Homo sapiens: one gene and its partners. The protein of the gene in region 1 purifies or fractionates together with the protein of each later gene. This does not show direct contact. Each region holds a gene or a part of one and is shown in the gene's direction. Other genes may lie near its edges. The genes, in order: FXR1, ORC2, CAPRIN1 and TOP3B.

The links.
Region 2: the proteins of FXR1 (region 1) and ORC2 purify together in Homo sapiens (affinity purification with mass spectrometry; 4 studies listed by BioGRID and IntAct, with this or other methods). This does not show direct contact.
Region 3: the proteins of FXR1 (region 1) and CAPRIN1 purify together in Homo sapiens (affinity purification with mass spectrometry, with the first as the bait; 2 studies listed by BioGRID). This does not show direct contact.
Region 4: the proteins of FXR1 (region 1) and TOP3B purify together in Homo sapiens (affinity purification with mass spectrometry, with the first as the bait; 2 studies listed by BioGRID). This does not show direct contact.

What each region holds. Positions count from the first base shown.
Region 1 is NC_000003.12:180,943,654-180,950,682, forward strand, and holds part of FXR1 (RNA-binding protein FXR1), read left to right. Parts: intron 1-4,211; coding exon 4,212-4,283; intron 4,284-4,693; coding exon 4,694-4,842; intron 4,843-5,067; coding exon 5,068-5,161; intron 5,162-5,573; coding exon 5,574-5,690; intron 5,691-7,029. UniProt on the Homo sapiens protein: mRNA-binding protein that acts as a regulator of mRNAs translation and/or stability, and which is required for various processes, such as neurogenesis, muscle development and spermatogenesis.
Region 2 is NC_000002.12:200,953,636-200,960,664, reverse strand, and holds part of ORC2 (origin recognition complex subunit 2), read left to right. Parts: intron 1-1,224; 5' UTR 1,225-1,273; intron 1,274-2,531; 5' UTR 2,532-2,541; coding exon 2,542-2,635; intron 2,636-3,120; coding exon 3,121-3,264; intron 3,265-7,029. UniProt on the Homo sapiens protein: Component of the origin recognition complex (ORC) that binds origins of replication. DNA-binding is ATP-dependent. The specific DNA sequences that define origins of replication have not been identified yet.
Region 3 is NC_000011.10:34,096,716-34,103,124, forward strand, and holds the end of CAPRIN1 (caprin-1), read left to right. Parts: intron 1-480; coding exon 481-581; intron 582-982; coding exon 983-1,046; coding exon of another isoform or gene 1,047-1,066; exon of another isoform or gene 1,067-2,345; intron 2,346-2,587; coding exon 2,588-2,652; 3' UTR 2,653-5,895; downstream 5,896-6,409. UniProt on the Homo sapiens protein: mRNA-binding protein that acts as a regulator of mRNAs transport, translation and/or stability, and which is involved in neurogenesis, synaptic plasticity in neurons and cell proliferation and migration in multiple cell types.
Region 4 is NC_000022.11:21,979,765-21,986,620, reverse strand, and holds the start of TOP3B (DNA topoisomerase 3-beta-1), read left to right. Parts: upstream 1-3,833; 5' UTR 3,834-3,891; exon of another isoform or gene 3,892-4,207; intron 4,208-6,856. UniProt on the Homo sapiens protein: Releases the supercoiling and torsional tension of DNA introduced during the DNA replication and transcription by transiently cleaving and rejoining one strand of the DNA duplex.

The sequences.
Region 1 (7,029 bases):
TACAGAAGTGGATATTAAGTTTAAAATGGAGTTCAGCATTTCATCGTTCAGTGAGAAAAGCCTCCAGGCAGTTGAGATGGTTTATTTAGAAAGCCAGATTCATGAATGATTATGCTTTGGTGAAAATAGAATAAGGGGGTTAGGTAGTTTTAAGACATAACATTTTCAGCAAATGAGGCTTGATTTACCCACATTAACAAGAGATATTCGAACTGCCTCTCTGAGATAGTTACTCGAATGGGCACCTTCTTTTGGTTGTTAGGATATTCTTTTTTTTTTTGAGATGCAGTTTCGCTCTTGTTGCCTAGGCTGGAGGGCAATGGCGCGATCTCAGCTCACCGCAGCCTCCGCCTCCCAGGTTCAAGCAATTCTCCTACCTCAGCCTCCCGAGTAGCTGGGATTACAGGCATGCACCACCACGCCTGGCTAATTTTGTATTTTTAGTAGAGACAGGGTTTCTCCATGTTGAGGCTGGTCTCGAACTCCTGACCTCAGGTGATCCACCCACCTCGGCCTCCCAAAGTGCTGGGATTACAGGCGTGAGCCACCGCGCCCGGCCTAGAATATTCTTTTTGTAACCCTCAGTATACTTGGGAAAACAGTCATCACTGATCGTTTACCAAATAATTTTGTAGCAGAAAGAATGAAAGGGTAGTAAGGTCGTTATTGGACCTTTTTTTTTTTTGAGACAGGGTCTCGCTCTGTCACCCAGTTTAGAGTATAGTGGCATGATCATGGCTCACTGCAGCCTTGACCTCCCAGTCTCAAGTGATCCTCCTTCCTCAGCCTCCCAAGTAGCTGGGACTAGAGGCATGCACCAACCACACCTGGCTAATTAAAAAAAAATTTTTTTTATAGAGACGAAATCTTCCTGTGTTGTCCAGGTTGGTCTCAAACTCCTGGGCTCAAGCAGTCCTCCTGCCTCAGCCTCCAAAAGTGCTGGGATTACAGGCATGAGCCACTGTGCCCCCCATTATTAGACTTTTTTAAAGGCCATTATTGACTCCATGCTGGAGTATAGTGAAGCAAACACAACTCACTGCAGCCTTGACTTCCTGGGCTCAAGAGATCCTTCCACCCTACCCCAGGCCCCCAAGTAGCTGAGATTACAGGCACATGCCACCATGCCTGGCTAACTTTTGTATTTTGCATAGTGATGGTGTTTCACCATGTTGTCCAGGCTGGTCTCGAACTCTGGAGCCAAAGTGATCTGCCCACCTCAGCCTCCCAGAGTACTCGGATTACGGGCGTGAGCCCCACCACGCATGGCCTTATTAGACATTTTAGTGAGGGTTTAAACATAGCAAATCTAACTTTTTCATATTTTCCAGGTTTTGATGATATATGTATCTACAATGAATGCAGTTCTCTAAATGTAACTAACTGCTCACTGTTATACATGAACCTAGAACATACCAATCTTATAAATATTGATAGCAGATTTAAAATATATCTCTAATAAATTCTAGCTTATTCTGGTTATTCTTACAGTTGGATCATCAGAATGCAGTCCTTGAATACTTTGGAACTTTTAATGACATCTCATTCTATTGAAGAAGGGATAGCCATCTCTGTGCTGTAATTTTAGCACATTTAGTCAGTTGGATTGACTAATCTATTGAATATTTTTGCATTTCATTATCTTTCTTTTTCGAGTTACCTTTGTATACACATCTGCTTTTGACATTTCCACTTACGAAGTACATTTTGGCACACAAACATTTCTTAAAATTTTATCTTCAATTTTTATTTTACCTTTTTTTTCCCCCTGGACAGGGTCTCGTTCTGTCACCCAGGGTTGAGTGTAGTGGTACAATCTTGGCTCACTGCAGTCTCAACTTCCCAGGCTCCAGCAATCCTTCCACCCTAGCCTTCCATGTAGGTGGCACCACAGGTGCACGCTACGACACCTGGCTAATTTCTTTTGTATTTTTGATAGAGATGGGGTTTCATCATGTTGTCCAGGGTGGTCTTGAACTCCTGAGCTCTCAAGCAGTCGACCTGCTTTGGCTCCCCAAAGTTTTGGGATTATAGGTGTAAGCCACCGTGCCTGACCACAAACATCTTAAAAGATGGAAGAATACTGTCATATACCCTTTTAGCAAACCAGGATGATCTGGGTTCTTGTTGGAGGATTTTGCATGATGGAGTCTCAGTTGAGTCATTAACTGGATGAGAATACACATCATCTTTCCCTCTTCTCCTTAGAAATACATTGTTTGAGAACAATGTTTGAGAAATACATCGTTTGAGAAATACATCGTTTGAGAAATACATTGAGAACATTCATCTAAGATGTCACCATCTCAGACTTCATAGTCTGAGGTTTTGCTTTGTAAGATAATTTCACATTTATCAGTACTCTTTGCATCTGTTGTCTGATATCTCTAATAATTAGAAAGGCCTTCCTCTGTAAATTTTTCTTCTCTTCGCAATTATGAGTGAAAAAAATTCATAATTATCAACTGGTCAACGGTAGCTAAAAGCAGACTACAAGGATGGTGTCTTTGGTCTTTTTGAACTGTTTTGAAAGAGATGTGATACCTCAGGCTATGCAGTAAGGAAACTGTATGAACATTAACAGTTTATTTCACTGTTGTATCCTCTAGGTGATGCCATCATTCCTCTGTTCCATTTTAGTCTTTATTTAAAGCATAGCTGAGAATAACTGATGAATGTTGATGAAATTGTAAAGTGTTTCAAGATATAGGAAAAATAAGATCACTAGATTCTACCTTACATTTATAAAAGGGCCCAGTGGATACATATAATAATTACAGAATAAGGGTGAGTTCTGTTCTAGTCTTAGAGAAGTAAACTTTCTTGTTTTTTGGAATATGTCGTAAGGAAGAATATAAGTCATGAGATATTGATCCCTTTGAATAGTTAGATCTGTTTATAAAAGAAATGGAAAAGCTAAAATTGAGTTTAACGGACCCTGATTGGTATATTGGACTTCCTGCTTTTTCTCATAGCTTTTTTCTAATCATGGTATACGATAAAGTTCATTAGTAGGTTTTGGTTTATTCATTTCCAGTTCCAGTATTCCTACCACTTCCAAGATTACTCTCAAATCATCCTGATAGAAGCTTCAGGCTTTCTAAAAGTCTTTGTTTTTAGTTGTTTGTGTTTATCTCCCAGATGGCTGTTAACAGCCACTGATAGGTTTCCCTGATGATCTCTGCAAGGACAGTCAATCTTGGTTTTTATTGGTTTTTAGTTTCTTCTCAGCCCCCCTTTTCTACCTTTCTCTATACTGAAAATATAATACGTTAAAGAAGCTCTGCTGTGTCATAAGAAATAACTCTAATCCCAAGTGAAAGCTTCTGTGACCTATTACGTTAATAAAACTGATATTTATAGATATAAAGAATATGACTTGTTTTTTTGTGGATAGTTTTTATTTTGTTTTTTTTGAGATGGAGTTTTGCTCTAGGTGCCTAGGCTGGAGTGCAATGGTGTGATCTCTGCTCACTGCATCCTCCACCCTCTGGACATGATTCTCCTGCCTCAGCCCTCCGAGTAGATGAGATTACAGGCACCTGCCACCATGCCCGGCTAATTTTTATATTTTAGTAGAGACAGGGTTTACCGTGTTGGTCAGCCTTGTCTCGAACTCCTGACCTCAGGTTATCCACCCACCTTGGCCTCCCAAAGTGCTGGGATTACAGGTGTGAGCCACTGCGTCCGGCCTGGATAGGAATTTTGTAAGATACTTAATGTATTCTGCTAGATGGACTGAATGTGTGTAATTTTTTTGTTCAGTTAAACAATTTTAGTACATTTGATTTAGGTTCTTTAGCACGGGATCTAAATGTCATATCCTCGATGGAATTTAAAAATTACGTTAATCACTTTCTGAGAACAATTTTTAATATTAACAATGTTGACAGAAACAGGAAGACCTGTGTTTTACATTATTTAAAACTCCTTTGTAAGAGCATTTCTTTAAAATAATACTTATGTTTAGTAAACCTCATGAATATGGAATTAATTTCTAAGAAGCTAAATTGCCCAAAAAAGTAGTTTTATTTTTAAGTAGTAAATTTAAGTTACATATCACTTTCTTTAAATTGCATTTAATATGCCAATTTAAATAAAATAGCATTTTTCATTCTTAAGTTTATTGGGATTGGGTATTAATAAAAAGTCATTTACAGCATTGAAATCTTTTGGGATGAATGGATATAGGCATTTTTTTTTCTTCTCAGGTATATTCAAGAGCAAATGACCAAGAGCCATGTGGGTGGTGGTTGGCTAAAGTTCGGATGATGAAAGGAGAAGTAAGTACTCTTCACACTTGCTTTGTGACTAGTTTCTAAGGAAGTACCTCAGTGCTTGGTTTTTGTAAATCTTATTTCAACTGTTAGTTTTATTTCTAAAAGCCTACCTGAGAAATAGTTGATCAGACATTTCCATTAGCATTAATTTCTGTTTGTGTTCTGTATTGGCAAACACCAAAGCTGCTCTCCAGAGGTACACCTCAAGCATGTAAGGACCGCCAAGGTTCATGCTTGTAAGAACCTATAATCTAGTTTAGGCAAATCAGATTGATGTAGCTAAGCTGTGCTTAGTATTTTATGCCACATGGGGGAGGGTCCGTTGGTTAAGCTGAGCAAGGTAATTAGAACTTCATTTAAACTTCATTATTTTTGTTCAGATGGGATTTTTAAAGTATTTTGATGTCTTTTAGTTTTATGTCATTGAATATGCTGCTTGTGACGCTACTTACAATGAAATAGTCACATTTGAACGACTTCGGCCTGTCAATCAAAATAAAACTGTCAAAAAAAATACCTTCTTTAAATGCACAGTGGATGTTCCTGAGGATTTGAGAGAGGCGTGAGTAATTTTATATACTATTGAATTGTTCTGTGAATTAAGAAGATTTTTCAGTCCTACAAAACATTTTCCCTAATGCCCAATCAAACCTTCTGATGGAAAATCATCTTAATGAACAAAGGTTTTAGTGGGGCTTGTCAAAATGAAACACTGACTTTGTATTGTGACTCTCCTCTGACTTTAATCTGTTATTGAGTTCTTACACATAAATTGATTTCTCTCTAGGTGTGCTAATGAAAATGCACATAAAGATTTTAAGAAAGCAGTAGGAGCATGCAGAATTTTTTACCATCCAGAAACAACACAGCTAATGATACTGGTAAGATAGTACCATATTATAAGGTAGCTTATTAATGGATATTGCACAGATTTTATAATTACATATTTCAGAAGAGAAAAGCTAAGATCAACTTAGTGTATAGTGAATTTATTAATATAGTGTGGGAGAAAAATTTGTTTGCAGCTATAAAATGTTAATTACATTCTTAACATCATAAAATTCTTAATGTGTGAGATTCCGGATTTTTCCCCAATCAAACATATTCTGAATAGCAGATCTAAATAATACAGGAATTCAGAAAGGAAAGTGTGATTACTCAGAGTAGTGAGTGTTAGGTGAAAGAAGTGTAGTAGATGAGAAGCAAGGAAGGCTTTGCATAGAAGATGGGATGGTGTTTGTGCTATTTGGAAGAATGATTAAAGTTTTGAGTAATTAGCTTGTTTGTTTATAGTCTGCCAGTGAAGCAACTGTGAAGAGAGTAAACATCTTAAGTGACATGCATTTGCGAAGTATTCGTACGAAGTTGATGCTTATGTCCAGAAATGAAGAGGCCACTAAGCATTTAGAAGTAAGTGGGTTTACTTACAAAAGAGTTTTCTGTGTCCCATTTAGTTTTTGTTTGTTTTTTGGAGACAGATTCTGGCTCTGTTGCCCAGGCTAGAGTGCAGTGGCACAATCTTGGCTTACTGCAACCTCCACCTCCCGGATTCAAGCGGTTCTCCTGCCTCAGCCTCCGTGTAGCTGGGATTGCAGGTGTGCCCCACCAAGCCCAGCTAATTTTTGTATTTTAGTAGAGGTGGGGTTTTGCCATGTTGGCCAGGCTGGTCTCGAGCTCCTGGGCTCAAGTGATTGCCCGCCTCAGCCTCTCAAAGTGCTGGGATTACAGGCATGAGCCACCGAACCTGGCCCCCATTTAGTTTTATATTTTTCAAGTTCCTTGCTTCAAACGAAGGCAGCCCAGGACCTCTGTTTCGTGACTGTTTGGAGTTGTGTCCGTAGAACAATTGCTTTTCCATTTTACCTTTTATCAAACATAGCCTTTCCTTTGCGAAATGCCTGTTGACTTGTTGGTAGGACTTAGATGACAGGTGCCAAAGAGCTAAGAAACTAGGGATACTCAGTAGACTGTATTGCTAGTTCTTTACTTTGTATTTAACCTTTTTATTTTTTTAACTGCCTTGTCATCTGTCAGTCATGATATCTTTCATCAGTAACTAGTTCACTGTAACAACTCTTGTGTGAGAGGAGAGGAGGACTAGGAGTGAGGCATCATGTGGCATGTAGTATTAAAATATTAAGCTTATCATTATATCTCTGTCTTATCCTAAGGTACTCTGTTTTGTCCTGTTCTTCCCTGCTACACTAGTAGGATACTTGTTCTTCCCACTCACTCACACTTTCTAGATCTAGATGAACACATGTGCATGCACACACTGTGATGTCTCAGAGAAATTAAGATATGTTTATTATCCTTAGGACAAATTTGGAAATGTTCTCATTAATTTAAAAATTCTGAACAAGGGATATGTGAACAAATCTGCCTGTATCTGGAAAAGTGTTTTAGACTAATAAAATAGATGAATAAAACAGTTTCTTTTCCCCATTCATTTTATGACATTAGATGAGTTTCCTTTGTTTCTTAAGAAACTTGAGTTTTGGCCTTTTTAAAAAAATTTATGTGGGTTTTCGGTGGTTTTTTCTTCTTGGGTTTTTCTTTATACTGTGGTAAAGTACATATGAAACTTAGCATCTTAACCATTTTTAAGTGTACACTTAGTATTAAGTATGTTTACATTATTGATCAATCTTCAGTACATCTCATCTTGTAAAACTGCAAATCTATACCCTTTAGACAGCTGCTCATTTTCCCCTTTCCACAGCCCCTGACAACCATCATTCTATTTTCT
Region 2 (7,029 bases), on another chromosome or scaffold:
TGTAAGTTGGGGACATTATATATATAAAGAGAGAGATGCAAAATACCTAAGTCAGAGAATCTGAGGATTTAATGAGCTGGTGTACATAAATGTGCCTAATACAGTGCCTCACAAACAGCCCCTTAAAAAACCTGTTGCTTTATTTTATACAAATATTACATAAATGGGTTAAACTTTTTCTCTAATACACCCAGTTTCCCCATAATAGGAAACAGTATTATGACTAGAAAAATGGCCCAAGAGGACATGTTTTACAAGCAATGGTCATAAGTTATAGATGAAGTATTTATTATCTTTATTTTTTATTTTTATTTTTAAAATTTTTCCTTCATATCACAGCCAAGTCCACAATTTTTTGTTGTCGTTGTTGTTTAAAAAAATTTTTTTGACCTGGTGTGGTGGCTCACTCCTGTAATCCCAGCAGTTTGGGAGGTAGAGGTGGGTAGATCGCTTGAGCCCAAAGGTTTGAGACAAGCCTAGGCAACATGGTGAAACCTCATTTCTACAAAAAATACAAAAGTTAGCTGGACGTGGTGGCAGAAGCTAGTAGTCCCAGCTGTATGGGAGGCTGAGGTGGGCAGATCACCTGAGCCCAGGAGGTTGGAGCTGTGGTGAGCCAAGATCATACCACTGCTCTAGGTGACAGAGCCCAGACCCTGTCTCAAAAAAAAAGAAAAAAAAATTAGAGACAGAGTCTCACTCTGTTGCCCAATCCGAGTAGACTATAGGCACATGCCACTACGCCCAGCTAATTTTTTTTTTTTTTGGTAGAGGCAGGCCTTACTGTTGCCAGGCTTGTCTTCAACTCCTGGCCTCAAGGGATCCCCCTGCCTCAGCCTCCCAAAGCACTGAGATTATAGGCATGAGCCACTGCACCCAGCCCACTATTTATTATCTTTATACACAAAGTATGAACCTCATAGAGTTGTGCAGATTAAATGAGAATACATATGGAGTACTCAAAACTGTCTAGCACAATGTAAGTGCTCAAATTTTGTCCTCCTCTCTTCCCACTCCATCCAGATGTTCTCAGTATCTAGGGCTTCCTAGCCAAATCAGTAATGGTCTTTTTGTCCTTTACTATACCATTACAACAGCTTTGGCTTTGTAAGGTCTACATGTATCTATTCATCATGCTTGTTAAAACTTGTGGAACTTGTTTTTGCCCCATTGCTTTCATTTTTCTGCTAGCTGACCCTGACTGAGTTATTTTTCCAATTACAGGTGACTGTATCTGAATTTTGCAGCTGCAGAATGTGTAGTACCTTAAAAGGTAAATGAAAACTGAAAGAAGTCATTTAAGCATGTTGCTTGTCAAAATAAAACTTGGTAACATTGAATTAGTTTTCTTCCTGCAGTTAATGAACTCAGAAGAGATAAATGACTGTGGTGGTGGCCCATGCCTGTAAATCCCAGAGGTTTGGGAGGGTGAGGTGGGAAAATTGCTTAATTCCAGGAGCTCAGAACCAGCCTGGGCAACATAGTGAGGCTCCATCTCTACAAAAAAAGGAAAACCTGCCAAGCATGGTGGCATGTGCCTGTAATCCCAACTACTTCAGAGGTTGAGATGGGAGGATTGCTTGAGCCCAGGTGGTTGAGGCTGCAGCAACACAGTGAGACCCTGTCTCAATAAAAAAAGAAAGAAAAGAGAGACACAGTCAATAGTTTCTCCTGCCAAAAGAAAAGGTGAAAACAAGATTGTAAGAAAGAGAGAAGAGAAAAGAAATCACCAAGAACACTGAATCTTAGTTTACATTTTTTGGGTAAACTGATTAGCTGGCAGCAGTTAAAATCATCATTAGTTATTTTCAGGCCAGTAGCATAGTAAGTTCTGAAAGTTCATTTTGTGAGACTAGCCAGAGTTGATCAAACTTTTGCTTGCCAAACTCTGGAGGTTTGTTCAGTGAGGAACTGAGTGTAAAGTGTTCGAAAGATTTGTGTTTACTGTTTAGTTACCAAGATATCTAGAAAGCCATATTCATATTTGTAAAGTTGTTTGGTAAGCATTCCATAAAAGTAAAGGGAGGTGCTTGAGGGTTTTTTGATCCAGGCTTAGGACACAAGTGAAGTTTAACAGACTCCCCACAATTGACTGTAGCTTTCTAGTGAACAGATAATAAAATCCATTAAAGCATTATTCTTTGTTTGGCTGTCACTTTTCTAAACACTCATGTATTAACCACCCCCTTTCTGTTAATGTGCTTATCTGGATTGGTTAGAGCTTTCATTAAAACTTAAAATTGTTTTTCTGAGAATATTTTATTTTATTTTTCTGAGTATATTTTAGCTACCTTGATTGGATTTAGCTCTTCTCAAATCTCAGAATCTCTTTGCCTCCCCAATTTTTTAGATAAAGAATTGAGTTACCTACAGTTGAATATGTAGTAATACAGTAATGCATAATGTATTTTTTATACTTAAAAAGACTTTAAAAATATTAGATAAAGACATGTATTCATTATGTGAATGTTTAATTTGGTGGTTGATATGAATTCTTCATCACTTTTGAGTAACTTACTGTTTTTGTTTAGGTTGGCAACAATGAGTAAACCAGAATTAAAGGAAGACAAGATGCTGGAGGTTCACTTTGTGGGAGATGATGATGTTCTTAATCACATTCTAGATAGAGAAGGAGGTATTAAGTGATTGTACAATTTGAAGAGATGCTTATTATAATGTTTATGGATTATTTCACTTTTAAAACTTTTAACATTTTCTTTTGAAAATATAGCGCAAAGGATTGATCTGGTTAGTAAAACTAAATAAAAACTGCTTTAATTTTTAGTTTAATTCTTTCAAACTTTAATTGAAAATGTTCAGTAAAGCCTAATATAAAACAAAATGCCCAGGAGTGGTAGTCACTAATAACTACCCATTGTAATTTAAAATATGTGGTTATTTTGAACCCTAAAAATATATACTTTCAAGATTGTGTGTGTTTTTTTTTTTAACTATATAAACTGTGGAAGAGTGGTCAGAGTGGTCAGTTTTAATCAAAGAGAAAGCTTTTTTCCCAGCTTTTAAGTAATGACAATATAAATATTATAATTTCTTATTTAAATGTAATGTTTAGAAAGAATTTATACCTGTCATGCTCTATTTCTTTGGATGTTCTTATAGGAGCTAAATTGAAGAAGGAGCGAGCGCAGCTTTTGGTCAACCCCAAAAAAATAATAAAGAAGCCAGAATATGATTTGGAGGAAGATGACCAGGAGGTCTTAAAAGATCAGAACTATGTGGAAATTATGGGAAGAGATGTTCAAGGTATTTGAGGGGGTGAAATATACACTCGTTTCTGCTAGTAGCAGAAATTGCTTTATAGGATACACAAAAGTAGTCTGGTAGGTTAAACAGTGGTGTTCTATATGATCATGTTTCTCATCTAAAAAGCATTTGCTTCAATTTCTCCATAGTTCTTTTTTTTAACAACCAGTCCTGCACATAGTTTTCAGTAAGAAGGAATCTATAGACCAACCACTCTAAAGTTATTTTATTTTTAAAATTTTTCCAGGATACATGTGTACAATGTGCAGGCTTGTTACATAGGTATACATGTGCCATGGTGGTTTGCTGCACCTTTCAACCCATCATCTAGGTTTTAAGCCCCACATGCATTAGCTGTCTGTCCTTATGCTCTCCCTCCCTCCACCCACCCGCAGGCTGTGGCATATGTTGTTCCCCTCCCTGTGTCCATGTGTTCTCATTTTTCAACTCCCACCTATGAGTGAGAATATGCAGTGTGTGGTTTTCTGTTCCTGTGTTAGTTTGCTGAGGATGATGACTTCTAGCTTCATACATGTCCCTGCAAAGGACATGATCTCATTCCTTTTATGGCTGCATAGTACTCCTAAAGTTATTTTCAAGATTATTTATTTATTTATTTATTTATTTTAGAGACAGGGTCTTGCTCAGTCACCCAGATTGGGATGCCATGGCACAATCATAGCTCATTGTAGCCTCCAACTTCTGGGTTCAGGAGATCCTCCCAACTTAGCCACCTGAGTAGCTAGTACTATTTTTAAGGTATTTATTTATGGCCAGACATGGTGGCTCACGCCTGTGATCCCAGTACATTGGGAGACTGAGGCAGGAGGACTGCTTGAGCCCAGGAGTTTGTAACCATCCTAGGCAACATAGTAAGATCCCGTTTCTACAAAAAAAAAAAGTTTTTAATTAGCTGGAAGCTGGGTGTGTGATGGCTCATGCCTGTAATCTCAGCATATTGGGAGACCAAAGCAGATTGATCGCTTGAGTCCAGGAGTTTGAGACTAGCCTGGCATGGTGGCACACACCTGTGGTCCCAGCTATGAGTGAGGCTGAGGTGGGAGGATCACTTGAGCCTGGGAGGTTGAGGCAGCAGTGAGCCGTGATCATACCACTACACTCCAGCCTGGGCAACAGAGTGAGACCCTGTCTCAAAAAAAAAATAAAACTAGCTGAGCATGGTGGCGTGTGCCTGTAGTCCTAGTTACTTGGGAGGCTAACGCAGAGGATTGCTTGAGCCCAGGAGGTTGAGGCTACAGTGAGCTGTGATTGCATCACTATACTCAGCCTGGGTGACAAAGCGAGACCCTAGGTCAAAACAGAACAAAAAAAAGATATTTATATTTTTAACTTATTTAAAATACCTTTCTAAAGCAAGTTACTTTATTCTTACCTTGATCTTTACAGAACTAGGAGGAGCATTTCAAGAAGTAGTGTTCTAACCCAGGGATGCTGGTATTATGTGTGTGGTTTTAATTTTTACATCTAAGCCAGATTCCTGCAAGATTATTCTTAACATAAAACATTTTTTTAGGTTCGAATTATATTTTAGTTAGGTTTTTCCTGGGTACAAGGAACACAGATCCCCACAACCTAGCTTAAAAAAATAATGACAAAGGAAAGAAATCAATATTGTTGGGTACTAGGAGAGTTGGAACTGGGACAGTGTTAAAAACTGAGGAACTGTGCTTTCATGAGTCTCCAGGTCTCCCTGTGTCATCTCTGTGCATCTGTTCTGATTTCTCTATGCCACATATTTTCTTCATGTACATGTGTTTTATTCTCACATACTTATAAATGTCCATCAAGTTCCCAGTGTTAAGTGATTTGGTTTTTCAGTTCTCCCATTCTAGATTCTCAAGAGTCAATTTAGCTCAATTCATTTTTAAAATCTGGACATAGAAATAGCATATAATTGGAATATCCACAGATGAATCACAGTTGAGTTATCTGTGCCTATTACTTATTATATTAATGAACATAATTACATAGTTCATTAACTATGGGGGTAGAGTCATATACTCCATGTATAGAGTTATACAAAAAATGACCACTGCTCCTCAATAGATTTAGTGGGCTGGGTAGGGTCTCCTATGTGTCCACAGCTAGACAGTTGACATTTTTTGAGCATATTCTAAATAAAACTTGGTGTTCTTGACTCCCTATTATGCCAGGCCTAAGAAGAGATTGATAACAGTATTCCACAAAGGAAACTTTTATCATAAAAATTGTCTCTTAAAAAAGTAGTATGTTTGTTGTAGAAATTCAGTGCTTCCAACCTTTCTCACATAACAGCACTCACAGCAAATGATATTTGGAGGCACAATGGAATAAATAGAAGAGGATGCTGCAGACCAAGGACAAATACCCCAGGGCCCTAACCCTACCCCTGCTACTGGCCTTGATTGGCATCCTCAAAGGCCTGAGAGAATCAGTACTCAGCACATATGAAACCCATACCATTTATTTATTTATTTATTTATTTATTTATTTATTCATTCATTCATTCATTCATTCCTCACACTGGGGAACTTTGCCTTATTTTTTGGCATCATGCCCTATGTTTTTCAACCTTTTTAAAATTATTGACCCCTAATTAGCCTTTTTAGACATTTTCTCCTAATCACTTTTTCCCACCCTAAAAATTTCAGTACTACATATATGCTGTATATCTGTTTATGTACTGTGACGCTTTGGAGGGCCACAGACTATTATATTAATAATGTCAAAGTCTTTTTTCCACACTCCCTCCTGTGCCAAGATCCAGTTTTACCCAATTGGGAGATGTATTGTACCTGTCAAGAATGCCTGCTTTAGAGAACGTGGAACCGTTAACATTTCAGTGTGTATCTTCTGTCTGTTCATACATGCATGGGCACACATAAGCTTGCACCATTACGTTTATAAATAGACTTTTTGCAATTAATAATGTATCATATATACATTACTCTGTCATTAGACATTCTTCTACAATAAGAGTTTTGACATGTATTGCCAAATATCCTCCTAAAGTTTATACAGATTACACTATTTAATCATAGTTACATTTTCCTAAAGACTTAGTTTTGGCCAGGTGCAGTGGCTCATGCCTGTAATCTCAGCACTTTGGGAGGCCAAGGCGGGTGGATCGCCTGAGGACGGGAATTCAAGACCAGCCTGGCCAACATGGCGAAACCGTGTCTCTACTAAAAATACAAAAAATTAGCTGGGCGTGGTGGTGGGTGCCTGTAATCTCAGCTACTCGGGAGGCTGAGGCAGGAAAATCGCTTGAACCCGGGAGATGGAGGTTGCAATGAGCCAAGGTCACACCATTGCACTTCAGCCTGGGCAACAAGAGTGAAAATCCATCTCAAAAAAAAAAAAAGAAAAAGAAAGAAAGAAATCCCAAATCCCATCTCTACAAAAAACATACAAAAATTAGCTGGGCGTGGTGGCATGCACCTGTAGTCCTAGCTGCTCAGAAGGCTGAAGTGGGAGGATCACTGGAGCCCAGGAGGTTGAGGCTGCAGTGAGCCACAATCACACCATTGCACACTAGCATGGGTGACAGAGCAAGAATTTATCTCATACACACACAAAAAAGCTTAGCATCTGAACCATTTTTAAAGTGTATGGGTTCAGTGGCATTAGGTACATTCACACCATTTGTAACCAATCTCCCAAACTTTTCTCATTGTACAAAACTGAAATTTATTCATCTGTAGATGGACACTTGGGTTGCTTCAACCTTTTGGGTATTGCGAATGATGCTGCTATGAACATGGG
Region 3 (6,409 bases), on another chromosome or scaffold:
TCAAATTATTTTTTGATTTGTAAAATATATCACACAGTTTTTGGGAAGGATGTATCTGCATTAGCCTCCTATGTGCAATTTAAACAATGTATATTTTGGTACAATTTGTGTATTTGGTATAATTTGTTATTTAAATAACAGATCATGGAATTTTTGTTCATTTGGTTATGTCAAATTAATGTCTACCACTATCTCCTGGAGGATAAGTATTTTCCACATTACCAAAACTTACGGGGATTGTTTATTATATTTGTACAGATGTGTGTTTACATGCATAGATGGGTTAAAAGTTTATCTTCTGAGGGGCAGTTAGTACTTACAGAAATTTATAAACAGATTGGATCAAGATAGGAAATTGGAGATTAATTTGATTAACTAGCCTGGCTTATAATTTCTAGTTCTTCCCGTCTTCATTAATAAAAAAGTAAAAATTCCTTGTGAAGATAAGAAAATTATTTCTTTTCTTGTCCTAAATTTTAGGAGGATATGATGGTTACCGCCCTTCATTCTCTAACACTCCAAACAGTGGTTATACACAGTCTCAGTTCAGTGCTCCCCGGGATTACTCTGGCTATCAACGGGTAGGTAAAGTAGTTCTAAAGTGTAAACCTGAACTAAATATACCAATGAAAGTGACTTAGTGTTGTTGCTTAATGAACCTAAGTAACTAATTTGGCGTTAACTTTGTGGTGTCCAAGACACTCTGTTGAAACAAAAGCTTTTAGCACTCAACATCAGTACTCCTTTAGTAAAGCCTGTTAAAGACAGTGATTTCCAAGAGCAGAGAAATATATTTCACTGAATGTTCTTTGAGAATAGTAGAAGTACAACAATTACAGAACAAGGTGTAGCTGTGATAAACTGATACTGAAGTGTCTAAAAGATTAAGGAAGAATTCTGTATTGAGTGTTAGACTGAAAGAATAGATGGGTAAGCATTTTTTAAAAAGTACCTTTTCAATACTAACTAGCTTGTCTTTTAGGATGGATATCAGCAGAATTTCAAGCGAGGCTCTGGGCAGAGTGGACCACGGGGAGCCCCACGAGGTAATATTTTGTGGTGGTGATCCTAGCTCCTAAGTGGAGCTTCTGTTCTGGCCTTGGAAGAGCTGTTAATAGTCTGCATGTTAGGAATACATTTATCCTTTCCAGACTTGTTGCTAGGGATTAAATGAAATGCTCTGTTTCTAAAACTTAATCTTGGACCCAAATTTTAATTTTTGAATGATTTAATTTTCCCTGTTACTATATAAACTGTCTTGAAAACTAGAACATATTCTCTTCTCAGAAAAAGTGTTTTTCCAACTGAAAATTATTTTTCAGGTCCTAAAACCTGCTAAATGTTTTTAGGAAGTACTTACTGAAACATTTTTGTAAGACATTTTTGGAATGAGATTGAACATTTATATAAATTTATTATTCCTCTTTCATTTTTTTGAAACATGCCTATTATATTTTAGGGCCAGACACCCTTTAATGGCCGGATAAGCCATAGTTAACATTTAGAGAACCATTTAGAAGTGATAGAACTAATGGAATTTGCAATGCCTTTTGGACCTCTATTAGTGATATAAATATCAAGTTATTTCTGACTTTTAAACAAAACTCCCAAATTCCTAACTTATTGAGCTATACTTAAAAAAAATTACAGGTTTAGAGAGTTTTTTGTTTTTCTTTTACTGTTGGAAAACTACTTCCCATTTTGGCAGGAAGTTAACCTATTTAACAATTAGAGCTAGCATTTCATGTAGTCTGAAATTCTAAATGGTTCTCTGATTTGAGGGAGGTTAAACATCAAACAGGTTTCCTCTATTGGCCATAACATGTATAAAATGTGTGTTAAGGAGGAATTACAACGTACTTTGATTTGAATACTAGTAGAAACTGGCCAGGAAAAAGGTACATTTTTCTAAAAATTAATGGATCACTTGGGAATTACTGACTTGACTAGAAGTATCAAAGGATGTTTGCATGTGAATGTGGGTTATGTTCTTTCCCACCTTGTAGCATATTCGATGAAAGTTGAGTTAACTGATAGCTAAAAATCTGTTTTAACAGCATGTAAAAAGTTATTTTATCTGTTAAAAGTCATTATACAGTTTTGAATGTTATGTAGTTTCTTTTTAACAGTTTAGGTAATAAGGTCTGTTTTCATTCTGGTGCTTTTATTAATTTTGATAGTATGATGTTACTTACTACTGAAATGTAAGCTAGAGTGTACACTAGAATGTAAGCTCCATGAGAGCAGGTACCTTGTCTGTCTTCTCTGCTGTATCTATTCCCAACGCTTGATGATGGTGCCTGGCACATAGTAGGCACTCAATAAATATTTGTTGAATGAATGAATGAATGAGTACTGGTGGAATACTCCATTAGCTTTACTCTTCTTTTAGCTAAGAGAACATGAGCAAATTTGCGCATGACAACTTCCAGGACAGGGGAAACTTGAACACTGAAGAATTGACCTCTTAAGCCTAATAATGTGGTGACAGGCTGCCCACATGCTTCTTGACTTCAGATGAAAATCTGCTTGAAGGCAAAACAAATAATATTTGAAAGAAAAATCAAATGCCATTTTTGTCTTCTAGGTCGTGGAGGGCCCCCAAGACCCAACAGAGGGATGCCGCAAATGAACACTCAGCAAGTGAATTAATCTGATTCACAGGATTATGTTTAATCGCCAAAAACACACTGGCCAGTGTACCATAATATGTTACCAGAAGAGTTATTATCTATTTGTTCTCCCTTTCAGGAAACTTATTGTAAAGGGACTGTTTTCATCCCATAAAGACAGGACTACAATTGTCAGCTTTCTATTACCTGGATATGGAAGGAAACTATTTTTACTCTGCATGTTCTGTCCTAAGCGTCATCTTGAGCCTTGCACATGATACTCAGATTCCTCACCCTTGCTTAGGAGTAAAACAATATACTTTACAGGGTGATAATAATCTCCATAGTTATTTGAAGTGGCTTGAAAAAGGCAAGATTGACTTTTATGACATTGGATAAAATCTACAAATCAGCCCTCGAGTTATTCAATGATAACTGACAAACTAAATTATTTCCCTAGAAAGGAAGATGAAAGGAGTGGAGTGTGGTTTGGCAGAACAACTGCATTTCACAGCTTTTCCAGTTAAATTGGAGCACTGAACGTTCAGATGCATACCAAATTATGCATGGGTCCTAATCACACATATAAGGCTGGCTACCAGCTTTGACACAGCACTGTTCATCTGGCCAAACAACTGTGGTTAAAAACACATGTAAAATGCTTTTTAACAGCTGATACTGTATAAGACAAAGCCAAGATGCAAAATTAGGCTTTGATTGGCACTTTTTGAAAAATATGCAACAAATATGGGATGTAATCCGGATGGCCGCTTCTGTACTTAATGTGAAATATTTAGATACCTTTTTGAACACTTAACAGTTTCTTTGAGACAATGACTTTTGTAAGGATTGGTACTATCTATCATTCCTTATGACATGTACATTGTCTGTCACTAATCCTTGGATTTTGCTGTATTGTCACCTAAATTGGTACAGGTACTGATGAAAATCTCTAGTGGATAATCATAACACTCTCGGTCACATGTTTTTCCTTCAGCTTGAAAGCTTTTTTTTAAAAGGAAAAGATACCAAATGCCTGCTGCTACCACCCTTTTCAATTGCTATCTTTTGAAAGGCACCAGTATGTGTTTTAGATTGATTTCCCTGTTTCAGGGAAATCACGGACAGTAGTTTCAGTTCTGATGGTATAAGCAAAACAAATAAAACGTTTATAAAAGTTGTATCTTGAAACACTGGTGTTCAACAGCTAGCAGCTTATGTGATTCACCCCATGCCACGTTAGTGTCACAAATTTTATGGTTTATCTCCAGCAACATTTCTCTAGTACTTGCACTTATTATCTTTTGTCTAATTTAACCTTAACTGAATTCTCCGTTTCTCCTGGAGGCATTTATATTCAGTGATAATTCCTTCCCTTAGATGCATAGGGAGAGTCTCTAAATTTGATGGAAATGGACACTTGAGTAGTGACTTAGCCTTATGTACTCTGTTGGAATTTGTGCTAGCAGTTTGAGCACTAGTTCTGTGTGCCTAGGAAGTTAATGCTGCTTATTGTCTCATTCTGACTTCATGGAGAATTAATCCCACCTTTAAGCAAAGGCTACTAAGTTAATGGTATTTTCTGTGCAGAAATTAAATTTTATTTTCAGCATTTAGCCCAGGAATTCTTCCAGTAGGTGCTCAGCTATTTAAAAACAAAACTATTCTCAAACATTCATCATTAGACAACTGGAGTTTTTGCTGGTTTTGTAACCTACCAAAATGGATAGGCTGTTGAACATTCCACATTCAAAAGTTTTGTAGGGTGGTGGGAAATGGGGGATCTTCAATGTTTATTTTAAAATAAAATAAAATAAGTTCTTGACTTTTCTCATGTGTGGTTGTGGTACATCATATTGGAAGGGTTAACCTGTTACTTTGGCAAATGAGTATTTTTTTGCTAGCACCTCCCCTTGCGTGCTTTAAATGACATCTGCCTGGGATGTACCACAACCATATGTTACCTGTATCTTAGGGGAATGGATAAAATATTTGTGGTTTACTGGGTAATCCCTAGATGATGTATGCTTGCAGTCCTATATAAAACTAAATTTGCTATCTGTGTAGAAAATAATTTCATGACATTTACAATCAGGACTGAAGTAAGTTCTTCACACAGTGACCTCTGAATCAGTTTCAGAGAAGGGATGGGGGAGAAAATGCCTTCTAGGTTTTGAACTTCTATGCATTAGTGCAGATGTTGTGAATGTGTAAAGGTGTTCATAGTTTGACTGTTTCTATGTATGTTTTTTCAAAGAATTGTTCCTTTTTTTGAACTATAATTTTTCTTTTTTTGGTTATTTTACCATCACAGTTTAAATGTATATCTTTTATGTCTCTACTCAGACCATATTTTTAAAGGGGTGCCTCATTATGGGGCAGAGAACTTTTCAATAAGTCTCATTAAGATCTGAATCTTGGTTCTAAGCATTCTGTATAATATGTGATTGCTTGTCCTAGCTGCAGAAGGCCTTTTGTTTGGTCAAATGCATATTTTAGCAGAGTTTCAAGGAAATGATTGTCACACATGTCACTGTAGCCTCTTGGTGTAGCAAGCTCACATACAAAATACTTTTGTATATGCATAATATAAATCATCTCATGTGGATATGAAACTTCTTTTTTAAAACTTAAAAAGGTAGAATGTTATTGATTACCTTGATTAGGGCAGTTTTATTTCCAGATCCTAATAATTCCTAAAAAATATGGAAAAGTTTTTTTTCAATCATTGTACCTTGATATTAAAACAAATATCCTTTAAGTATTTCTAATCAGTTAGCTTCTACAGTTCTTTTGTCTCCTTTTATATGCAGCTCTTACGTGGGAGACTTTTCCACTTAAAGGAGACATAGAATGTGTGCTTATTCTCAGAAGGTTCATTAACTGAGGTGATGAGTTAACAACTAGTTGAGCAGTCAGCTTCCTAAGTGTTTTAGGACATTTGTTCATTATATTTTCCGTCATATAACTAGAGGAAGTGGAATGCAGATAAGTGCCGAATTCAAACCCTTCATTTTATGTTTAAGCTCCTGAATCTGCATTCCACTTGGGTTGTTTTTAAGCATTCTAAATTTTAGTTGATTATAAGTTAGATTTCACAGAATCAGTATTGCCCTTGATCTTGTCCTTTTTATGGAGTTAACGGGGAGGAAGACCCCTCAGGAAAACGAAAGTAAATTGTTAAGGCTCATCTTCATACCTTTTTCCATTTTGAATCCTACAAAAATACTGCAAAAGACTAGTGAATGTTTAAAATTACACTAGATTAAATAATATGAAAGTCTGGTTTTCTCACTGTCCTTGAACGCAGTCTGCTTAAGTTGTTAAAAACCATCCAGCAAAAGCTGTAGGTGAAGAAGTGCTACTGGTGTGAAGAGAGGAAAAGGTTTATAAAAGCAATCTGATAGCCTCATCTAATACACTTCTCAGCTTCTGCTACTAATATCCTACTTTTAACAAGCTGTTCTGAAGCTTAATCCAGTTACATAAGCAGTACGGCTGTTTTGAGTAGAGGCAGTGGAAGATCAGCAGTTTGTTCCTGATCATCTAGCAAAGGCATTTGTGTATTAATGCTTATTTGGAAATACCAATTTTAAGTACTGTGTTTAATAGGGAGACACACTGTATTAAGCAACTAAACTAAGGCTTTATTCAGCAAATTAGGGTATCCTTTGCCCAGCATCATGCCAAGCACTAGGCATTTAGTGGTGACAAAAATTACTGTGGTTTCTGCTTTCATTGAACTGTCTAATCAAAGACTGATGACACCAAAGTGTAGCAGATGCCATGATGGAGCA
Region 4 (6,856 bases), on another chromosome or scaffold:
ATGGCCTCAGCACACAGCCAGTCAATTTCCTGTTCTTCAGCGCAGGTTTCATTGCCCTTTTATTCAAACTTCAAAAAGTAATCTTGGCCAGGCGCGGTGGCTCACGCCTGTAATCCCAGCACTTTGGGAGGCCAAGGCAGGTGGATCACAAGGTCAAGAAATCAAGACCATCCTGGCCAACATGGTGAAACCCATCTCTACTAAAAATAAAAAAATATTTAAAAATTTAAAAAATTAGCTGGGCTTGGTGGTGTGTGCCTGTAGTCCCAGCTACTCGGGAGGCTGAGGCAGGAGGATCGCTTGAACCCAGGGGGTGGAGGTTGCAGTGAGCCAAGATCGTGTCACTGCACTCCAGCCTGGCGACAGAGCAAGACTCCTCTCAAAAAAAAAAAAGTAATCTTTAAGGCTGTGCACGGTAGCTCATGCCCATAAATCCCAGAACTTTGGGCAACAGAGTGAGACCCCGTCAAAAAAAAAAAAAGTGGCTTCTGGAACTAGGTTGCTCTGCCACTTCCATCATTGTGTCCTGCTGGTTCTTTTTTTTTTTTTTTTTTTTTTTTGAGATGGAGTTTTGCTTTTGTTGCCCAGGCTGGAATGCAATGGCATGATCTTGGCTCACTGCAACCTCCGCCTCCTGGGTTCAAGCGATTCTCCTGCCTCAGCCTCCCGAGTAGCTGGAACTACAGATGTGCGCCACCATGCCCACCTAATTTTTTGTAGTTTTAGTAGAGACGGGGTTTCTCCATGTTGGTCAGGCTGGTCTCTAACTCCCGACCTCAGGTGATCCGCCCGCCTCAGCCTCCCAAAGTGCTGGGATCACAGGCGTGAGCCACCGCGCCTGGCCTATGTGTCCTGCTTCTTTATGTGTAAAATAAGGATAATAATAATATCTAATTCCTAGTGTTGTAATGAGGATTGTGTCAGTAACAGAACAGTGCCTAGAACAGAGTAAGTAAGCACTGCATGATGTTAACTATTAATAGTATTATCAAAATCATGGACCAGCCTATGCCGAACCAGAGAGAAGAGAGGTCCAGGAGCCCTCAGTTATCCCATCCACCATAACCAGGCACCTGCCCAGTAAGTGAGGAGGGTAAGGAAGAGGAGAAAAGTCAAGACCATGGTGGAAACACCCCAGGGCTCTGCTTCCTGAAGTCCCATGGCGGTGTCTGGGCACCTGAGTTTCTCTCATGGCCTCTGCACACTCCTTAGAGGAGGCCTCTGCAGGCAAGTCTGCTGCTACTCTTTAGGGGAGTCAGTTTCTCCCCAGCCATGGGGAAAGAAGAACGGCCCCTCTCGCTGAGTCGATCCTAGGCCACCATCTCCCTGGTCAGAGTGGAGCTGGGGTTGGGGGGAGTCCCAATAGGGAGACACCTCCAAGTTGAAGGGTTCCTCTGAATCTGGGTCATTTGTCAACCTAAGGGTCAGTCAGAAAGCCTGACCCAAAGCTCTGGCAGAGGGTCAGCTGCAGGGCTCTCCGGGAAGAAAGCACAAGGCAACTGCAGTTTCTCTGCTCTGACCAAGAACACTTCCCGACGCCCTGGCCTTCAGAGCTGACCACTCAGCGCCTCCTGCTGGCCCAGGCCTCAGGTCCTTCCTAGGGCTCCATACAATGAACTCTGGAACTGGATTGATGGAATGAGCTGAGGGCCTCTGGGTTTCTCTTTCAGCCAACTGGTAGCACCCAACAGAGCCAATCTTAGCCCTGGCTGGTATGTGGAGAACACACTGCAGGGCGGCAAGGTGGAGACCTGGAGGGAGAGGAGGAGCTCGGATCAGGGTGGTGGCAGGGAGGCAGGGAGACTTGAGGGGATCTCCGATATACAGTCTTCGATTTAGGACAATTTCCACCTACAGGATTTTTCAACTACAAAACCAGTATGCATTCTGCACGCTTCTTGACTCATGATGGGGCTACATCTGGGTAAGCCCATAGTAAGTTGAAAATACCATAAGTCAAAAACGTACTTTCGAGTCACAATATTTTCAACTTAAGATGGGTTTATGTGGATGTAGTTCCATCTGAAGTTGAGGAGCATCTGTATTGTAAAGACAGTAATGGCAGGATTTGTGGGTGGTCCAGGATGCTCCCAGGCTCTGTCCCTGAGCAACCAGGAAGATGGAGTTGCCATTTTGGAGACGAAGAACCTACCAAGGTGTGGGTTTGGAATCAGGAGTTCTGCTTTGAAAGTGAAGTCTCACCGTGACTCATAATTTGTGACATTTCCAAACCTTAATTTGCCTATAGAACTTTTCTTTTTCCAGAGCCTCTATCCAGACTACTTATTATTTATCAAAATAAATTAGATAAATAAATAACTTAATTTTAGAATTCATCTTCCAGATATACTTTACACAGATCATTCCAATAAAGGCAGGTTGGGGCCCGGGACAGTGGCTCACCCCTGTAATCCCAGCACTTTGGGAGGCCGAGGCAGGAGGATCACTTGAGGCCAGGAGTTTGAGACCAATCTGGGCAACATAGTGAGACCCTCCCCCTAGACCCCATCTCTACCAAAAAAAAAAAAATTAATTGGCTGGGCTTGGTGGCTGGCACCTGTGGTCCCAGCTACTGGGGAGGCTGAGGTGAGAGCATCGCCTGACGCCAGGAGATCGAGGCTGCAGTGAGCTGTGATCTCGCTACTGCGCTCCAGCCTGGGTGACAGAGTGAAACCCTGTCTTTAAAAAAAAAAAAAAAAAAACAGCAGGTTGGGAAAATCTACAAGGAACAAGGGCAATGTGTGTATGTTATTTAAAATAAGATCATAAAACGTATTTTAAACCTTCCATAATCCTAATGCTCTAACAAATAAATTAGTTGGCCGAGCGTGAAGAGTCACACCTGTAATCCCAGCATTTTGGGAGGCCGAGGGAGGCGGACCACCTAAGGTCAGGAGTTCAAGACTAGCCTGGTTAACACGGTGAAACCCCCGTCTCTACTAAAAATATAGAAATCTTTGGGAGGCCAAGGCGGGCGGATCACGAGGTCAGGAGATCGAGACCATCCTGGCTAACACGGTGAAGCCCCGTCTCTACTAAAAAAATACAAAAAATTAGCCCGCGTGGTGGCAAGCGCCTATAGTCCCAGCTACTTGGGAGGCTGAGGCGAGATCATCGCTTGAACCCGGGAGGCGGAGGTTGCAGTGAGCCGAGATTGCGCCACTGCACTTCAGCCTGGGCAACAGAGTGAGACTCCGCCTCAAAAAAAAAAAAAAAAATATATATATATATGTATACACACACATATATATACATACACATATAAATTAGCTGGGCGTGGTGGCGCACGCCTGTAATCCCAGCTATTTAGGAGGCTGAGGCAGGCGAATTGCTTGAACCTGGGAGGCGGAGGTTTCAGTGAGCCGAGATCACACCACTGCACTCCAGCCTGGGCGACAAGAGTAAAACTCTGTCTCAAAATAAATAAATAAATAAATAAATAAATAACTTAATTTTAGAATTCATCTTCCAAATATATTTTACACAGATCATTCATTCATTCCACAGATTTTTTTACAGCATCGAAAAGAAGCCTGCTATACACACATCGGTACATTTTTATTATTTTAATTATTAACAGCATAAATGTTTTCATGCCAGTTTTCATAATCATTGTAATGATAATTGTCATGATTGTCTCTCCGTGGCGGGGAAGAATCTGGGTGCAGGGCTTGGGGATCCCTGCGGTCCGCGGCGTGCAAGTGCCACTCCCTGGGGTGCTCCCGGAATCCGCGAGCCACGGAACCTAAGAACGCCGACCCGCCGGAGCCGGAGGGCAGACGCTGGCACACCGGACGCGGGGACGCCAGAAGCGGCTGGACCCGGAAATAGGGGTTGTCGGTAGCCGCCCCGGGAACAAGGACCGGAGCTGGATCCGCGGTGCGGCTGTGGGTGAGCGGCGGGCTGCGGGACCCTCGCCCGGCGGCTCAGAAAGGCGGGAAGCGCACGCATTTTTCTGGCTTGTTTCCTGAACGTTGGCCGGCGGAGGACCCGCGAGCTCGGGAGAGCGCCCGGGCCGGGCTCTGCATTCTTGTTGCCTCTTCCCTGGCGGGGGTGATACTCTCCCGCGGGGCTTGCTGTGGGGGTTCAGGGAGGTGGAGATGGGCCCGCCATGTGCCTGCAGGGAGCAGGCGCTGTGGTTAATACTTTTCTTCTTCGAACCCTCCCACAGCTCTTTAGGGTGAGATCTGCTGTACCAGTCTCACAGGTAGGGAAACTGAGGCTCAGGGAAGCTGTGCAGCCACCGGGGCCCAGATCGGTGCGGTACACACCCAGGCAGCTTCCACTCGCCGCCCCCTAGGCCCTGGCTGGGTTTTGAGGGCACCCAGGTTCTCTGACCTGTTATCTGTAAATGAAGTAGGGTACTTTTGTGAACAAATTAGCTGGAATCCAGGGGCAATAATTTCTCGCAGAAGTGAAAGGTAAGATGTTCCTAGTCTTGCCTTTTTATCTTCTCACCTTTTGAAACAGGACCTGAGAGGCCAGCCTAACTTGGGCTTGATGGCCAGCCAGTCCTGGGATTCTTTTGCCAAGGTCACCTGACACTAGTGTGACTTGTTCTGAACCTCCATTTACTCACAGTTTTAAAAAATTACAACACCTGCCTTATGGGGTTGCTGGCGAGATTGAATAGTGTTGATAGCTATGGTGTGCCTACTACAAAGGAGGAGCTTAAGAAATGGTTGTTTCCCTCTTTTCCTGATTCTAGAAGCATTTGGTAAAGTTACTGAGGTGGTAAATCCTAGGAATTTTAATGCTATTCAGACCACTGCTAGGCCTACTCCCAGGCCACATCTGCTTGTTTCTTTTTTTGTTTGTTTTGTTGCAGGCAGAGTCTCACTCTGTCACCCAGGCTGGAGTGCAGTGGCGCGATCTCAGCTCACTGCAACCTCCGCCCCCGGGTTCAAGTGATTCTCCTGCCTCAGCCTCCTGAGTAGCTGGGATTACAGGCATGCGCCACCACGCCCAGCTAATTTTTGTATTTTTAGTAGAGACCAGGCTTCACCATGTTGGCCAGGCTGGTCTTGAACTGCTGACCTCGGGTGATCCACCTGCCTCAGCCTCGCAAAGTATTTGCTCACTGTCTATTTACCGTGAGAATGCACAAAGCAAAACCCGTGTTCTCCTGCTGCTTACTTACTTTCTAGGAGCTGTAAGACAAGAGCTGAATAAGTAGATGGAAGCTGTACCAAGTGTAGTGATGAGTGCTACAAGGAAGCAAAGCTGGGCTGCTGTTCCATCAGAGTGCTCACAGAGGCAGGACAGGATCAGGCTTGGGGCACGGGTTCTAGAACAACCAAGTCCAGCCACTGGAGCTCTGGTCTCTCTGACCCCACAGTCCCAGTCTAGGCCAATAAAATGGCAGCACCTATTAGCATCCCTGCCTAGGATGCTGGCAGGACTGCCTGGTCCCTGGTGTGTCCTCATTATGTCATACATAATTGCTGACTACTCTGTGGCATAGACATGAGAAAATCTGAGGAAACATTTTAGGACAAAATTTCCTACTTTGGAAGAGATGGGAAACTCAGACCCTCACAGAACAATGCCCCTCTGCTGCGAGTTTTCCCTTTTGGCCTCTGGCTTCCCAGGGTGAGAGAAGGGGAGTCCCTAAATCTCTTTTAAACCTCACTTCTGGGCCTCTGATTTTGGTAGAATCAAAACTTCCCCAGAACGGAGAGCAGAGGCCAGTCATAATCACCTTGGTTGTTCATTCATTCCCTCAGCAGGCATTTAGTGCATGCTGGGTGCCAGAAATATGGCAATGAACCTGACAATTGTGGGAGAGACAGACTGCTGACGCCAGATGCAGTCTTCAGGAGGGGAGGGGCAGGGGTCAGAGCAAGTAGACTAAGGGGGAAAAGTGGCCTAGGCCGAAGCCTGCTGGCGCACAGGGAGGAAAGGTGGGTGCGCAGCAGAGCCTTGGGAGATGCAGCTGGAGCTGTCATGGGCCAGAGAGCTCATCTGCAGACAGTGTCGTCATTCCACAAGGCCTCGGCTCTTTCACTGTGGGATGGTTGTACATTTAAGGGGAACATCCACTTACTTATTTTGAGGAAAAAAGCAAATTGTCATTTTATTTGGGACAGCTTTCTGGTCAAGATTACTGATTTCACTGTAGTCCTGTGATCTCTTAAGTGGGGAACAAGGTTGACAGCCCAAGGCCGACCTTGGACCTCTTCCCCTGCACAGCATGATGAGCAGCAGAAGCCCCTTTAGTGAGGGAGTTCCTTTGGCATCCTTTCTGAACAATGCCCTTTACAACCCTCCTTTATTTTTCTGGTTTTATTGTAAAGTCCCTTGTCTTAGTTCTTGTCCCTCAGTCACCTGTGTCCAGGCGCTAAATGTAAAAGGTGCAAAAGGGAATGTGGTGAGGAGGCACCCCCAGCCCTGACCTCCAGGCCCTAACACCCACTCCAGGTGATTGCTTGGACTGTTTGTTTTGCGTTCCATCCAGACATATCGCCTCTTCATAATCAAGTGCACACGTGTGCACACATATGTGTGATCACAGATGGCAGTGCTCTCTACACACCGTTACATGCCCAGCTTTCTTAGCATGATTTATTTCAGTGATCTGATCCACGTTAGTATGTACCAAGCAGATGCTTTCCTTTGTAATGCTGCCAGGTGCTCTACTGTAGAGAATGCCATGCTTTTTTTTTTTTTTTTTTTTTTTGGAGATGGAGTCTCACTCTGTCGCCCAGGCTGGAGTGCAGTGGCGCAATCTCGGCTCACTGCAAGCTCCGCTTCCCGGGTTCACACCATTCTCCTGCCTCAGCCTCCCGAGTAGCTGGGACTACAGGCGCCTGCCACCATGCCCAGCTAATTTTTAGTATTTTTAGTAGAGACGGGG